Linked DNA regions of Homo sapiens: regions 1 and 2 are each linked to region 3. The links come from fine-mapping of genetic effects on gene expression. A gene starts in region 3. Each other region holds a variant in brackets. All regions are shown on one strand. Distances are from middle to middle. Region 1 has its middle 96 kb from the start of CARTPT. Region 2 overlaps BDP1 (BDP1 general transcription factor IIIB subunit). Region 3 holds the start of BDP1 (BDP1 general transcription factor IIIB subunit).

Evidence for each region. PIP is the estimated chance that this variant, and not a neighbour inherited with it, causes the effect.
Region 1: its variant is the best candidate, but not a certain one, in a credible set for the expression of BDP1 in subcutaneous fat (FUSION, PIP 0.61).
Region 2: its variant is the best candidate, but not a certain one, in a credible set for the expression of BDP1 in whole blood (INTERVAL, PIP 0.80).

The regions. Positions count from the first base shown.
Region 1 is chr5:71,812,877-71,818,103 of GRCh38, reverse strand. No RefSeq gene overlaps it. Among named protein-coding and RNA genes, the nearest start is that of CARTPT, 96 kb to the right of the region's middle. The variant C/T (reference allele first, on the strand shown) is at 2,606.
Region 2 is chr5:71,519,328-71,524,554 of GRCh38, reverse strand. It overlaps BDP1 (BDP1 general transcription factor IIIB subunit), which reads right to left. Exons shown (of 39, transcript NM_018429.3): 23 at 2,065-2,266; 24 at 1,606-1,799; 25 at 232-616. Among named protein-coding and RNA genes, the nearest start is that of MCCC2, 65 kb to the left of the region's middle. The variant G/C (reference allele first, on the strand shown) is at 2,747.
Region 3 is chr5:71,452,989-71,458,215 of GRCh38, reverse strand. BDP1 (BDP1 general transcription factor IIIB subunit) reads right to left here and starts at 2,565. Exons shown (of 39, transcript NM_018429.3): 1 at 2,127-2,565. The coding sequence starts at 2,338. RefSeq lists enhancers at 1,778-2,703, 2,704-3,630.

The DNA.
Region 1 (5,227 bases), 360 kb before region 3:
CTGCGGCTCGGAAAGCCACATTTCTGCTTTGCCAGCTGGCTCTACATTCAGCTCTTCCAATACGGGAAACTTGAGGAATAAGAAGACGTGTACTTCGTGTTCTTGTCACAGCACCTCAGTCTCACTGCTCCCCTCGGCATTTGCAGTCACAGCATGCATTCAGTTTGCAGGATTTCCAACACTGGCAGGACCAGTCTCACCATGGTCCCCAGAAACACCAGCACAGCTGACCAGGACCTTTTCCTCAGAGTTCTGGGTCACAGCCCCAGGGGATGCCTCCTCTGAGCTCAGAGTCATCAACATAAGCTGAGCAGTGGTCCCCTTTCAGAGGTCTGAGATTCAGCTTCTACTGCAAGCTTTTACCTATCAATAATTCCAACTTCTTCCCTTGTTCCCCCAGGTGTAAGCGTGGTAGCTGAGATATCTTAGTGTTCTCTCTTTGCCTTTCCAGTTTTTAAATAACTACTTAATAATTCCTTACATTAAGTCCTTTCTGTTAAAATAGCATGTGTGGTGTCTCTTCACTGAGGTATTATAGGAAAAGCCTGGTGAAAACCTTGAAATTGCCCCCCTCTGCCCTGACAAGAAAATGAGAAGCAATGCTTCATCACAGGAAGAATGGCAGAGATTGGGGCTACCCTCAAAGACATAAAGGAGGCTAGGATGGCAGTCCCTTCGTATCCCCATTTAGTGTACCAGTCTGTCTTCTAGAAAAAGCCAGTTGGGTCATGCATTTTATGGTGGACTATCATGACCAAGTATTAACCCCAACCACAACTGCTGTTCCAGATGCAGTATTTTTACTACAGCAGATCAACATGGTCTCTGGTACTTGGTGTAACACTACTAAATTGGAAAATGCATTCTCTTCAATCCCTTCTAGAAAGGAGCATCAAAAGCAGTTTGCTGTCACTTAGAACAGACAGATACATACATTCACTGTCATGCCCTCATGGCTAGATTGCAATAAAGCTTAACGGGATTGGGATCATCGGGATATTCTATAGGAAATCTCAAGGTTTCACTGTGCTGGCAACATCATTTAATTGTGCCTGGGGGACAGGAATGGTAAGCATTCTGGTCAGGTATATCTGGATCAGAGAGTGGAAGAGGAAGCTTACACACAATCAAGGCTTTGCTGCGGTCAATAAAGCTTTCAGGGGCCCCGTGGTTTGAGACATGCCAGGTCACTCCTCCAAGGGGCGAACAAATGTGTGCACTTTCTACCTCCTACCACTAAGAAAGTGGTACAATGCCCAGTGGACCTCTTCAGATTTGGGAGACCATATCCACCACACTTGTGAATACTGCTTCAACTCATTTAGTAGTGAGTCAGAACACTTCTGGTTTTGAGTGGGTATTATGGGTCAAATGCGTCCCTGCAAAATGTATCCGTCAAAACCCTAACCTCCAGTACCTCAGAATGTGAGTATATTTGGAGATAGGGCCTTTAAGAGATGAATTAGTTAAAATAAGTTCATTAAAATGAGTTCTAATCCAGTCTGACTAGTGTTCTTATAAGAAGAGGAAACCTGGACACACAAGGAAGTGCCAAGAAGCTGACGCACAGAGGAAAGTCCCCGAGAGGGCACAGCAAGAAGGCGGGCCATCTGCAAGCCAGGGAGAGGCCTCCAAAGAGACCAGACCTGCTGACACCTAGACCTCAGACCGTCCAGCCTCCAGAACTGGACAGGTTTTTGCTGTTTAAGCCACCCAGTGTGTGGTATTTTGTTATGGCACCCCAAGCAAACTAATAGAGTAGGCATGGAGCAAGTGAGGGCACTGGAACTGGTCCAGGTTGTGGCACAAGTAACTCTAGTGTTTAGCTCTGTGACCCAGAAGATTCCATGCTGCTAGACTCACTAGAATCTTTGACAAGCCTCAATGGGAGAACCACAATGAGAGCCCCAGAGGTCTAGAGCAAGTCCATGACACCCACAAAAGACAACTCTTCATTCAGAAAGCAGCTCCTGAGTGCTGCTGTGGCCATGAAATGACTGAGTACCTGAGCTTGGGACATCAAGTGACTGTGCAACCAGCACTGCCTTCTATGGCATGGATAATATCAGACCTGCCAGGACATAGGATTGCATCGAAAAAAAAAAATCCCTCCTAATCTGGGACTTAGACCTCTCAGAGAAAAAGGTCTGCGTTATTCCATAAGGTAAGCAATCTAAACCAGTAGAAATGCTGGCCAAGGGGCTGGAGGGTCTACAAAGGGTAGAATAGAAGAGAGCTGATCAATGAACATCGTGGGAAAGACTGCAGCAGTAGACAGTGAGATCCTGGCCCACTAATGCTCCTGTTGTCTTTTTTTTTTTTTTTTAATGTTTATTTGTGACCTTGAAGAAGCAGTGATAGGATAGAGTAAGCCTAACACAGGACACAGGTGGATCTGAGTGGAACAAGGTCTTGACTGCAGTTGACACTGTCAGTGCCCTGCCCAGAGCCCCTCACCCTTAACACTGCAGAGCACACTAACCTTCTACCTGTCAGCGCCTAGATTCATTTGCCTGGGGGTTTCCTCTGACCTACAGAGCTACTCTGCTCCTGTGCACAGCAGGCCAGATGTGCCAGGGAAATTACACCGTGGCCCCAGGAGCAG[C/T]CTTTGATTAATAACTGATGGCAACTGGAGTATAAATATCCCAGTTCCCTCACTTCCTAGGTGGGATAACTCCAAGGCCCATGTTTTAGACGACCACTCAGTGTTCCTCAGAGAGATTAAACTCTGATTACCTTAGCAGTAACTTGTTTTGTAAGAACCATTATTTGCTGCCCTCTCCCCCTGGGTCATTTCTTCCCTGCCACACCTTTTGTGATCCTTCCTCCATCCCCCACCTCACAAAAAAGTGATTGGCTTTACTGTCTCAATGTCTGCTGCTGGGAAAACCCAAACCAAGGTAAGACATTACTCCTACAAAAATACAGACAGTCTCTCTCTCTCTCTCTCTCTCCCAAGTCTCACTCCCACCACCCAGACTGGAGCGCAATGATGTGATCTCGGCTCACTACAGCCCCGGCTCAGGTGATCCTCCCACCTCAGCCCCCAAGTAGCTGGGACTACGGGCATGTGCCACCACACCCAGCTAATTTTTTTGTATTTTTAGTAGAGATGGGGTCTCCCATGCTGGGAGACCTTAACCTTGCCCAGGGTGTTCTCAAATTCCTGGACTCAAGGGATCCGTCCACCTTGGCCTCCCAAAGTGCTGGGATTACAGGTGTGAGCCATCATGCGTGGCCCAAAATATAAACAATCTCTAATCAACAACACACTCCTAATTCCTCCCACTGTTGTCTGGGATTGCTCCCTCTTATACATGCAGAAAAATGAGGTAATGGGCTGCGGAAGTGATGGGAAAAGAGTACTTGGCCACTTAATGGGTCAACACCTGCAAGATAAGGCAGCTACACTATATTCTGATGGACACAAACCTTGGGTTTCTGCCTGAGGGAGTAAAGAACAGAGAAGGTCTAGACTCTACATTTTTCCTGTGTCACTCTTGTGTGACCTAAAACCTGGGTGTGCCATAAGGCATTCCTCAAATCTACTCCATTTGTCTCTCACATGATGAGCAGAGATTCCTCCAAAAATCTGGCATGTGTCATCCATTTTTATTCTTTTTAAGGCAGAATTTCCCTATTTTCTCTGTCTTCATTTTCTGTGCTATTGTGATACTTTAATGAAAGTTGAATGAGATTGCATGGTGGACGACGCTGGCCATATGATATTTTGATCTGAACAACTGCAGTATTCCATCTCATGAAGTGGTGAAATGATAAAATGGAAGATGAAGTTCCAGAGGTTCATGAAGACCTTCTTCCTGGAATAAGGCATTCTTTCCAAATAGAGCCACAGTAGAGATGTACTGTCAACAAGAATATGCTACATTGTGTAAAGTACTGGAAATTCAAGTCCTCATTAGCATGGTTCTTCAATGATTCCTAAGAACATTATTCATGAGCTTGGGGAGACATAGAAAAAGAGATAAAAACAGAGTAAGCGCACGCATGAGAGGGAGAGAGAAGAAAAAGAGAATGGTGGGGTCTACATTTCAAAGAGGATGTAAGTCATATTTATTTCCCCAGAGACCTAATAAACTGGTCATTCCATAATGCTTAGAATACTTTGAGAAGAATTAAGAAACAATTTCATTTTATAGTCAGCATTCCCAACTATTTCATTCCACAAGTGAAATGTTAACGGGCAAACAATCACAATGCTGCAATAAATTCTGGAAGCATAGGGGTTATTTTCCTTTTGGGCTGGGTCATGATTTGAGTGATTTTTCACTGGTTAAGTTCCACTATTATCTGGGTGACACCTTTTGTAATAATAACCTTGCTTTGCTCCACATCTTGTCATATTTATCTTTCCTGACCAGCTGCCATTCACACTCTGACCCTGTGATAGTAGCTAGTCTGCCCTGACCTTTGCAGCTGGGAAACTCAAAGGGGCTAATGAGCTACCAGTTCACACCTATCCTAATTAGCTATCTTTAACAGCTGTAGGAAAGAGTCAGTTCTCTGTGATCTTTCTATTATAAAAATTGAGAGCAAGTTAATCTAAACTGGAAGCGGAAAAAAATTCACCTTGGAAAATCCAAGGAGCTTCTCAGTCAAACTGAAATCCCATTTTAGCACTTCCAAAGTCTCCCAGTGTGACTCCCAACACTTACTCTGGAGCTGATGATATTGGTTTAAAGATTCAAGCACATATTCAGTATGCTGTACCTAAAAAGTACTAGGAAGTGAGGATCATGAGACCATATAAATGAACCATGGCTAGCAAATAAGATGCATTACACATTTTAATATAAAACATTTGAGTCACCCAGATACCTAATTTCCCTGAATCCTCCATTTAATACTCTCTAGGGATGTGCTTGAAATCACATCACATCTTATTCAGTAACAAAAATGACATAAAATAGTGTTTATTTGACTTTAACGCACATTAAGATTACCTAGAGAGGTAATCTCAAGCCCAGCCTGAGACTCTTTTTCTGATGGCAGGGGTGGGACCTGAGAATCTGCATTTAAAATAAATATGGACCAAGTTTTTCCTGAATTCTGGCTTTCAAAGTTCAAATGAGAGGATCAGGAAAAATAAGTAATGGGTACTAGGCTTAATAACTGGATGATGAAATAATTGGTAAAACAGACCCCCAAGACACAAGTTTACCTATGTAACAAACCTGTACTTGTACCCCTGAACTTAAAATAAAAG
Region 2 (5,227 bases), 66 kb before region 3:
AGCAGATTTCTCTCGTTGTTACACTGACTCCCTTGCTGGGCCTGGGCCATAGGGACTGAGCAATCACAAAAGGTTATACAAGGCCCCAAATTATATTTGGTAGAGGTTATTTAGAGAATGAACTCTTCAAATCCTAATAATCACTACGAGAAGAAATAATGATCCCCTAAAAGAAACAAGAGGTGAAAACCAAGTAAGATAAAGTACCAAGGTTTTAAAAAAAAACCGAACCTCTTCCATTGTTTCCTCAATCTGAGCAGAAACAGGTTCAGGAGATCTGAGACCAACAGGTACAAATACTGGAGCTTTGTTTACTTCTTCGGGAGCAAGATGATAGCTTTCTTCCTCATAGTCAGACTCAAAATCGTCAGCATCATCATCTTCTTCCTGGGAAGCCCGAAGAGTCACCAGCATGGCCTTGGAAGCTCTAGGTTCCTTCTTAGAGGTCTTACCCCGAACTCGTTTTGATCCACGACCTCTGGTGACATTTGGTTTGAACTTTTTATGACTTCTCCTTTCACCACGATTTCTCTCATACTCAGATGTAGAAGAGATAGTTGTTTTCCCATCCAGGGCAATTTTAGAGTAACTTGTTTCGTTTAACGGTTGTGGACAGCTAGATATTTAATCAAAACAACAATAAGGTCATATGCATGCAAGGATAATTTTAATGAAAACCAAACTTTTAGAGTGAAATTCCAGTTCCAGTCATTAAAATGAAAATTCCCACCACCCATTCTTTTAAAATCTTATGCTGTGAAAATAAAAAAGGAATTAACTACTAGTTTCTCACTCAGAGTTAATTCTTAGTTATCTACCTACAAATTTTTCATAGTAAGTTTTTAATTCTGGACCATTCTTTCCTGTAATATGAAAGTGAAGATAAAATAAACACAAAACTGAAAATTATTAGAAGAAAAAGGGATAAAAGACACAGAACCGGCTGGGCGCAGTAGCTCACGCCTCTACTCCCAGCACTTTGGGAGGACGAGGCAGGCAGATCACTTGAGGTCAGGAGTTCAAGACCAGCCTGGCCAACATGGTGAAACCTGATCTCCACTAAAAATACAAAAATTAGCTGGGCACGGTGGTGCACGCCTGTAATCCCAGCTACTCGGGAGGATGAGGCAGGAGAATCACTTGTACCTGGGAGGTGGAGGTTGCAGTGAGCCGAGTCACGCAATTGTACTCCAGCCTGCGCGAGAAGAGTGAAACTGTCTCAAAAACAAAAAAAGACACAGGACCAATAAATACAGAATATGAGATCAAATGTGGTATTAGTTTATCCTACTGGGTAAACAGATAGGTTAAAAGAAAAAGGAGGCAGCAGAAATCCACTAGAGCAGTGCTGGTTTCTAGAACTTAAGTTTCTTTCCATTTTCTTTGAAAACTATAGAAGTAGGGTATTCTTTATTTGTGTTTGTGACTCCATTTGAATGAGCACCTTAATTACTTAGCTAATACATACATACTCCTCTTTGGTCAAGTTTCTACCCATGTCTAATGGACTCAACACCCAAAAATTTTGTTCTACCAGTAAGTTAAGGTAAAAGTTAAGTGATTTTTATTTCTTATTGTGAAACATTTTGTTAAATAAAATGTTACCTTGTTAGTTTATTGAGATATTGCTCTTCAACAACTGAAGATGGTGAATTATCTCCTACAGTTTCCTCTCCAACCCTTCTTGATGGTCCAACTTCTTCTAATTCCGCATCTATTTTTGCCAAAGCAGACTCTTTGGAACCTACACAATCTTTTCTTGCTGAAACCTCCAGAGATGTCAGAAGCTCAGCTTTTTCCTTAAATTTAAGAAGAAATTAGCTAGTATTACTACAGAAACAATCTCTATGTTAATTTGGTTTGGTAGTTTGGCCTAAACCTCTAAGTTTACACATATCTACAAGCAGTTGGTTGCTCATCTTTTACAACACTAGAAAGTCACTTTTCATGAAAATGGTTACAGTACAGAAGTCAAAACTGTATTTTACTCATGCTCTTCATGATCTTGACAAAACAGACCTCATTGAGAAAAAAAATTTTTTTTTTTTTTTTGCCCAAACTTACTTTTAGAAGGAGCTGGGTGTTGGAAGCTCCTTTCTGCAGCAAATGATCTTCTGGCTTGCCTTCCTTGCTCTGATCTGTTGTGACTTTTTCTAAAACTGGTTCCTCTTTCTTACTGTGTGCTCTTCCCAAATTTGGCTTAGCCTTTTGGAATTTCCTTCTTGTCATTTGTGCTGAACTAGGAACATACGGTTTATTTTCATGTCTAGAATGAAGTATGAATCATGTTGAAGAACAAAAATCAGAATTTCTTGTTGATATAACAGCTGTTACATCAAACAATTTTGGATACAAATCAATTCTATGTTCAAAGGACTATATATAAATTGGCAATAAAATCAAGCATGTAAAATGAAACCACACATTGCTGATATGAAAAGAACTTATAAAGCATTTATAGCTTCCATTTTCTATAGAGCCTGAAAAAGTTTTACAATAATATTAATCTTTTTAAACTTTCATTTATTCATTCTATTATATGATTTCATGCTACTTTAATTTTCAGAGAAATCACAGGATACCAAAAAAAAAAAGGCAAGTAGCTGAAGATGGATTTCATAATGGCACTTTAAACACATGCCTTCAACTGGGCCCCCAAAGCATGAACAAATATATGACAGTTATAACCAACTCGATACTTCTAGTTCTAAAGTAGACTTGAAGGGTAGAGTCTATTCTCCTAACA[G/C]ATGCCTGAACTCTCACTAAAAAGGGTTTACTGACAACCAATGTCATAAGGTTCTCAATATAATCCGTCTGTATCTGCCAAATAACAAAAAGACGTTTTAGCATTCAAGAGAGTAGCCAGAGCTCCCAAGGTAACCTGAATAGCTATCTAATGGTTTCCTGGACAATATTTTAGCAACTGGCAAAGATCTGAATTAGGAAGCTTAAAAACTAATAGAGACCAGGCACGGTGGCTCACGCCTGTAATCCCAGCACTTTGGGACGCCGAGGTGGGCGGATCACCTGAGGTCGGGAGTTTGAGACCAGCCTAACCAACATGGAAAAACCCCATCTCTACCAAAAATAAAAAATTAGCTGGGCATGGTCGTGCATGCCTGAAGTCCCAGCTACTCGGGAGGCTGAGGCAAGAGAATCACTTGAACCTGGGAGGTGGAGGTTACAGTGAGGCGAAGTTGCACCACTGCACTCCAGCCTGGGCAACAAGAGCAAAACTCTGTCTCCAAAAAAAAAAAAAAAAACTAATATAAACCTGAATATTTATAAAGAATAACTGGATATATAAGTACCTATCTTGAGTTCTCTGAAAGATCTGCATTAAAAACTAATCTTTTTTTTTTTTTTTGAGACGGAGTTTCGCTCTTGTCACCCAGGCTGGAGTGCAATGGTGCGATCTCGGCTCACTGTAACCTCCGCCTCCAGGTTCAAGCGATTCTCCTGCCTCAGTCTCTCAAGTAGCTGGGATTACAGGCATGCGCCACCACGGCTGGCTAATTTTGTATTTTTAGTAGAGATGGGGTTTCTCTATGTTGGTCAGGCTGGTCTCAAACTCCCGAACTCAGGTGATTCGCCCGCCTTGGTTTCCCAGAGCGCTGGGATTACAGGTGTGAGCCACCATGCCCGGCCTTCAATGCACCCTTTCAATGAAGCTTTCTCTGGTCACTGCTGATTAAAAAGTGAATCCCCAGTCACAACACTCCCTACTCAAAACTTTATTTTTCTCTACTGATTTATCACTTATTTATTCAACTTATTTCTCATTTATAATCTGTTTCTCAATTAGAATATAAACTCCACAGTGACAGCATTTTTTTCTTCATTTATTCCTACATCATCAGCACTTAGAACAATGCCTGGCACACAGCAGACACTAAAATGTTTGTGGAATAAATGAGTATATAAGGTTATTTTCAGTGGTAAAATTCTATAATTCTTTGAGATCAAAAAGGGATTATACATAGAAAATAATCCCATAATTAGTAATTAGGAGAAGTGAATGATGTAAACAAATTCATCTGTAATGTTTCCTAGACATTATCAGAGTTAAATTGCTCTGAGATCAATCATCAACCTAATCCAATATAGCATTTGTAATATAAGTCTAATGCATTTTAGTAAAAAACATTTCAATAAAATATCCAGTTTTAAAAACTGAAAAAATGGCTAAGGGAACCTAAAATTAATGTGAAGTAAAAATTGGCCTTAATCTTAAAATAAAAGCAATATGGAAAGACTTTTCAATGCATAGCACAGGGAACAATCAACAAAGTGAAGAGACAACCTACAGAATGGGAGAAAAAATTCCCAACTATCCATCTCACAAAAGTTAATAACCAGAATATATAAGGAACAAAAACAACTCAATAGCAAAAAAACAAATAATCTGATTAAAGAATAGGCAAAAGAGAACAGACAGTTCTCAAAAGACATACAAATGGCCAACAGGTGTCTGACAAAATGTTCAACATCATTAATCATCACGGAAACGCAAATCAAAACTGCACTGAGATATCCTACTGCCGTTAAAATGGCTACTGTTAAAAAGACAAAAAATTACAAATACTGGTCAGGATGTGGAGAAATGGGAAAACTCATAGGCTGTTCGTGGGAATATAAAGTAGGAATGCCATTATGGAAAAAAGTATGAAAGTTCCTCAAAAAACTAAAAATAGAACTACCATTTGATTGAGCCATCCTACTGCCAGGTGTATGTCCAAAAGAAAGGAAATCACTGTATCAAAGAGATATCTGAACTCTCATGTTTACTGCAGTGGTATTCACAATAGCCAACACATAATATCAACCTAAGTGTCCAGCAACAAATGAATAAAGAAAGTGAGAAAGTGTGGTATATATACACAATGGAATATTATTTAACCATAAAAAAGAATGAAATCCTGTCATTCACAGTGACATAGATGGAACTAGAGGTCATTATGTTAGGTGAAATAAGCCAGGCACAGAAAGACAAATATTGCTGGTTCTCACTCATATGTAGCAGCTTAAAAAGTGGATCTCATGGAGGTAGGGATTAGAATGGTGCTCACCAGAGGCTAGGAAGGCAAGAGGGAAGGGAGTAATGAGAAGCTGGTTAGTGTGTATAAAAATACAGTTAGATAGAAGGAATAAGTTCTGGTATTCAGTAGTACAGTAGGAAAAATTATAGTTAACAATCATTTATTGTATTATTTCAAAATAGCTAGAA
Region 3 (5,227 bases):
AAAATTTAAAAAAATTTTAATTCACTCTGACATTTTAAACTGGTCTAAACTACCGGCATTTTACTTTACTTATCAACCCGAGGTCAGTCAAATCAAATATGCAAAACTCCAAACCTCTGAAATATCTGTATTGCAGTATTTGAAGAAAAACATTTAGTTACAGTAGCCAAACCCAATTCCCTTTGAGGCAGAAATCATTTATCTTTTGTCAGGTACAACTCTACTTATACAGCCATCAGAATAAACTTCAGTCAAAAAAAGTACTCAGTCACCCCAAATTGCATATTAGGTATGGTATACCTCAGATATAAGTATTTCAGGAATGGTCTATAAATGCAACTTAAGTCAAGAAAAGAGGTGGTATAAGTCAATAATTAAAAACAGTCTACTTTTTTCCTATTTTATAATTACTTATAAAAAATTAGAAAATGCCTTAACTTATAGAATAACCTTTCCAGGAAGACTTCAATTTAAATTCGTATCTTAGCTGTTATGGATACATGCATTATCTGCATTTCACCCAATTATGTTGAATGCATAATGACAGAATATATATCCTATAGAGTTTTACAACTAGCAAAGACCCACAAAAAAATAAAAAGAGGCTGGGCACGGTGGCTCACACCTGTAACCCCAGCACTTTGGGCTGAGGCAGGTGGATCACTTGAGGTCAGGAGTTCGAGTCCAGCCTGGCCAACATGGTGAAACCCTGTCTCTACTGAAAATACAAAAATTAGTTGGGCGTGGTGGGGCACGCCTGTAGTCCCAGATACTTGGGAGCCTGAGACAGGAGAATTGCAAGAACCCGGGAGGTGGAGGTTGCAGTGAGCCGTACCACTGCACTTCAGCCTGGGCGACAGAGCAAGACTCCATCTAAAAAAAAAACTAATTAAAAAAAAAAAAAAAAACCACTTTCCCAGAGTCAGTAATGGCAAAAAAAGTGACTAAAAAACAAATTATATTCCCCAAACGTAAATGTCAACTCAAAAAAAAAAATTAAATATCCTTGACCATAAATATCTCAAAACTACAATCTTTGGGCAATTTATTAAATTATCAACCATCACGCACTCACACATAATTAACGAAATCTCTGAGAACTTTATTAATGTAACAGCGACTAGTATCGGTATCTCCTTTCTGTGTAGAAATTTTGAAACAGATTCATGTAATAAACTTGGAAATTACTAACCATCACTGAACTATCAACGTAACACCATACACTCAGCACCAGTTCAGGCCAATAGAGGAAGATGTTCCAAAAATAAATAAATGTTTCACCTTCCTATCACAGCATAAACAGAATTTGTACTATCTCACTTCACTTAACAAGGCTGTTTACTGATTTCCTCATATATATAGAAACAGAGACCATCTTAGCCTAACATGTCTTAAATTTACTCCATCACCTTTCTAAAAAACTAGTAACTTTTTGCGGGCAACTATTCTGCTATATCCCCTGCAAGGTAGTTAATATGAATTATCTCCAATCTGCACCAAAACGCTCCAAGTAGGCAATATTATTCCCATTTTGCAGATGAGCAAATTCTGCCTGAGAAAAGTTTACCTGTAGACTAAAAGAGTCCTGAATCCAAATATGATACATGACGCTAAAGCCATGCTTCTCTATTCAGGAAACACGGTCACCATAGTTAAAGAGGCACACTTCAATTAAGTGACCAGAACTCTTACTCACTGACATAAATCGGTAAAGCCAAAGCAATACTTATCTTCTCCTTTAAAAAATAAATATTTTATAAATTGAAAGACAAAAACACTTCCCTGCAAAGCACTCCAGAAGGATGAAAACTATAGTGACCTAAATTCTCAAATGAATAGTGTGGATATTCTTCACTTCAGGACTGCCATACCCCGATTCTCCCTACCACCACTTGAAGACATGGTCTCCTCTCGGAGAATCTATAGACCGTGACAAAATCCACACAAGCCACACCCTGCAGGTCAGACAACTAAACTGCAGTTTGGAGTGGTTTCATCAAGCCTCAACTGAAAGGCTTACTGCAAACGAGAGCGGACTCCTGTGATAAAATTCATTTGCTCAGCTTCCAGGTGACATGCCCGGAGAGGCGGGACAAATGAAAATTCTTCCCTCTGCAACCTCTTACCTGCTCCTAGGAGCCTTTTCTTGGGGCTCCGCTCCACCGAAATCGACTGTGGGCACATCTGTGGGCTCCGCGGGCTTGGAAGCAGAGTCCGTGGCAGGATCCGGCGGCCTGGGAGACTCCCGTCCACGCTGGGGATTGGAAGCTGTGGAGCCCCTGGCGCCTACACCAGGCCTGACATTCGGCTTCACGCTAAGGCGTGCCCTGCGGAACATGGCGGAGGCAGGGGGCCCGGGGAGGCAGCCTCACGGCCGCTCACAGCCCCGAGCCCCGGCGGCTGCCCGGAAAGGGGATTAGGAACTACGCCCTCCCCACAAAGCCACACCACCAGCTCAGGGGGCAGCTACCGTAGTTTCACTGCCCCGCCGCCGCCTCCTCCTCTCTCCCGCCGCCGCCGCTTTTTCATGACCCTGCCACACACCGATGGCTAAATTTCACCCTCCTCCCAGCATCCCCGCGCTCACAGGACGCCGCAACTGATTGCGCCATCAGCCAGCGCCGCAGAATGACGTCAGACGCACAGCACTGGGAGCCATGGTAACTACCAAGCTACTGAGACTGGGTTACCTGCGGACCAGAAATTGAGATGCAGAGATATTTGCTCTTTCTTCTCCAGGAGTCCTTAGGAGTAGTTGAAAAGAGGAACAGAAGAAAGTCCACTTCTCTGCTCAAACCTTTACTGGAACTATTAAAATCGCTGGCCGATTTTGTCTTTTGAAGATCCTGAAGGGTTTAGAAATTCTAAATTGAGTAGACATAGATTAAAAATGCTGGTGTGAAGAAACTGATAATAGTTACCTCCCAGGAGAGGAATGTGTTTCTGGAAAACACGTCGTGGTAGGAAGACCATTTACCGTACGCCTTTGTGTACTTTTTTGTTTTTGTCCTTTGAGACAGGGTCTTGCTCTGTCGCCTAGGCTGGAGTGTGCAGTTGCGCGATCTTGGCTCACTGCAGCCTCCACCTCTCGGGCTCAGGCGATCCTCCCGTCACAGCCTCCCAAGTTGCTGGGACCACAGGCACGCGCCACGACACCCGGCTAATTTTTTTTTTCTCGTATATTTAGTAGAGACGGGGTTCATCATGTTGCTTAGGCTGATCTTGAACTCCTAGGCTCAAGCGAGCCACCCATTTGGCCTCCCAAAGTGCTGGGATTACAGACGTGAGCCACCACGCCCAACCTCCTTGTGTACTTTTTAATATGAATGTATCACCCGAGATCGTACCACTACACTCCAGCCTGTTTAAAAATTATTATAGTTGAAACCTTGTAAATTATTGTGAGTGTTCTTAATCTGCTTCAGGAGGTAGCAGTAAACAAGACGTTCTGGATTTGGGAGGAGAAAATACAAAAAAGAAATGAACAAGATATTTTTAAAATGTATCAGGCCCGGCGTGGGTGCCTCATGCCTGTAATCCCAGCATTTTAGGAGGCTAAGGCAAGGCAGATTGCTTGAGGTCAGGAGTTCGAGACCAGCCTGGCCAACATGGTTAAACTCCATCTCTACTAAAAATACAAAAATGAGCCAGGCCTGGTGGTGCAAGCCTGTAATCCCAGCTATGGGAGGCTGAGACAGGAGAATGGCTTGAACCCTGGAGGTGGAGGCTGCCGGGAGCCAAGATGGCACCACTGCACTCTAGCCTAGGCAACAGAATGAGTGAGACTCTGTCTTAAAATAAATGAATTAATTAATTAATTGCAATAAAATAAAGTATATCAAATGTCATGAAATAAATTTAAGGGTTGAATGCCGGGTATGGCGAGGCACGCCTATAATCCCAGCTACTGTGGAGACTGAAGTGGGAGGATCTCTTGAGCCCAAGACTTCCAGACCAACCTGCTCAAAATATTGAGACCCCTAAAACAAATTACCTACATGCGGTGGCTGTGATGGCTCCCACCTCTAGCTCCAGCTACCTGGAAGGCTGAGGCAGGAGGTCCAGGCTGCAGTGAGCTATGATAGTGCCACTGCCCTCCAGCATGGGTGACAAAGTGAAACCTTGTCCTTAAAACAAAAATTTAATAATAAGAAGAAAAAAAAGAGAGAAATGTACAGGATGATGTGATAGAAAGTAATGGGAGGGAGGCTGGCAGTAGAGTGGCTAGGGAAGTCCTCTATGATGAGAGGAAAAATAGCCAGAGCTGAGGTTGGCCTTGGAGGTATTGGGCCAATGTTTGAACCAGTGATACAAATCCCCTGACTCATGGGAACACAAAGGCCTGACTTTCTTCTTAGAAGGAAAAGAAAATCCTACAAGAATATGGTGATACATTAATAACAAAAGGTCAAAGGAATAAAATTCTGAACTGACTGAAGAAATTGATCACCTAAAGGGAGAACAAAAAAGAGGCAAGTGCTTTTGAGAGTAGGAAGGCAAGACTGAAAGCAGAGAAGAGAAAACATATATCTCTAAGACTATGAAGAAAATGAAGGTCTGGAGGCCAGGCACAGCTCGTGCCTGTAATCCCAGCACTTTGGGAGGTTGAGGCAGGCGAATCACTTGAGCCTAGGAGTTTAAGACCAGCCTAGCCAACATGGTGAAACCTCATCTCTACCAAAATTACAAAAATTAGCTGAGCATGGTGGCTTCTGCCTGTAATCCCAGCTACTCAGGAGGCTGAGGTTGGAGGATTGCTTGAGCCCAGGAGGCGGAAGTTGCAGTGAGCCAAGATCACACCACAGCACTACAGCCTGGGTGACAAAGTGAGACCCTGTCTCAAAAAAAAAAAAAAAAAGAGAGAGAGAAAGAAAGGAAGGAAGGAAGGAAGAGAAAAGAGGAGGTCTGTGGATTCCGTGGGCTCCCTGCAATACTCTGGAAAAGGAACAGTATCTCAGTTTTATCTTCTTTATTTAAAGAAGCTCAAGAATTCGAGAGAATACCCTGCTAAAGATGTCTCAGGAATCTTGGAGCCACTGCCAGGTCTACACAGCTTTGAACAGCATATTCTGATACCAACTGAAGACACAGGGCCTTTCCCCAGATGGTCTTCTGTTCCACTTAAGAGACTAGGGCATTGTCCCAAGTTTTTACAGGTCAGAAAGTAAATAGTGACTAAGATTTAATTTCCCACCAGTAAAGGGATGGGAACAGAATCAGATTAAAT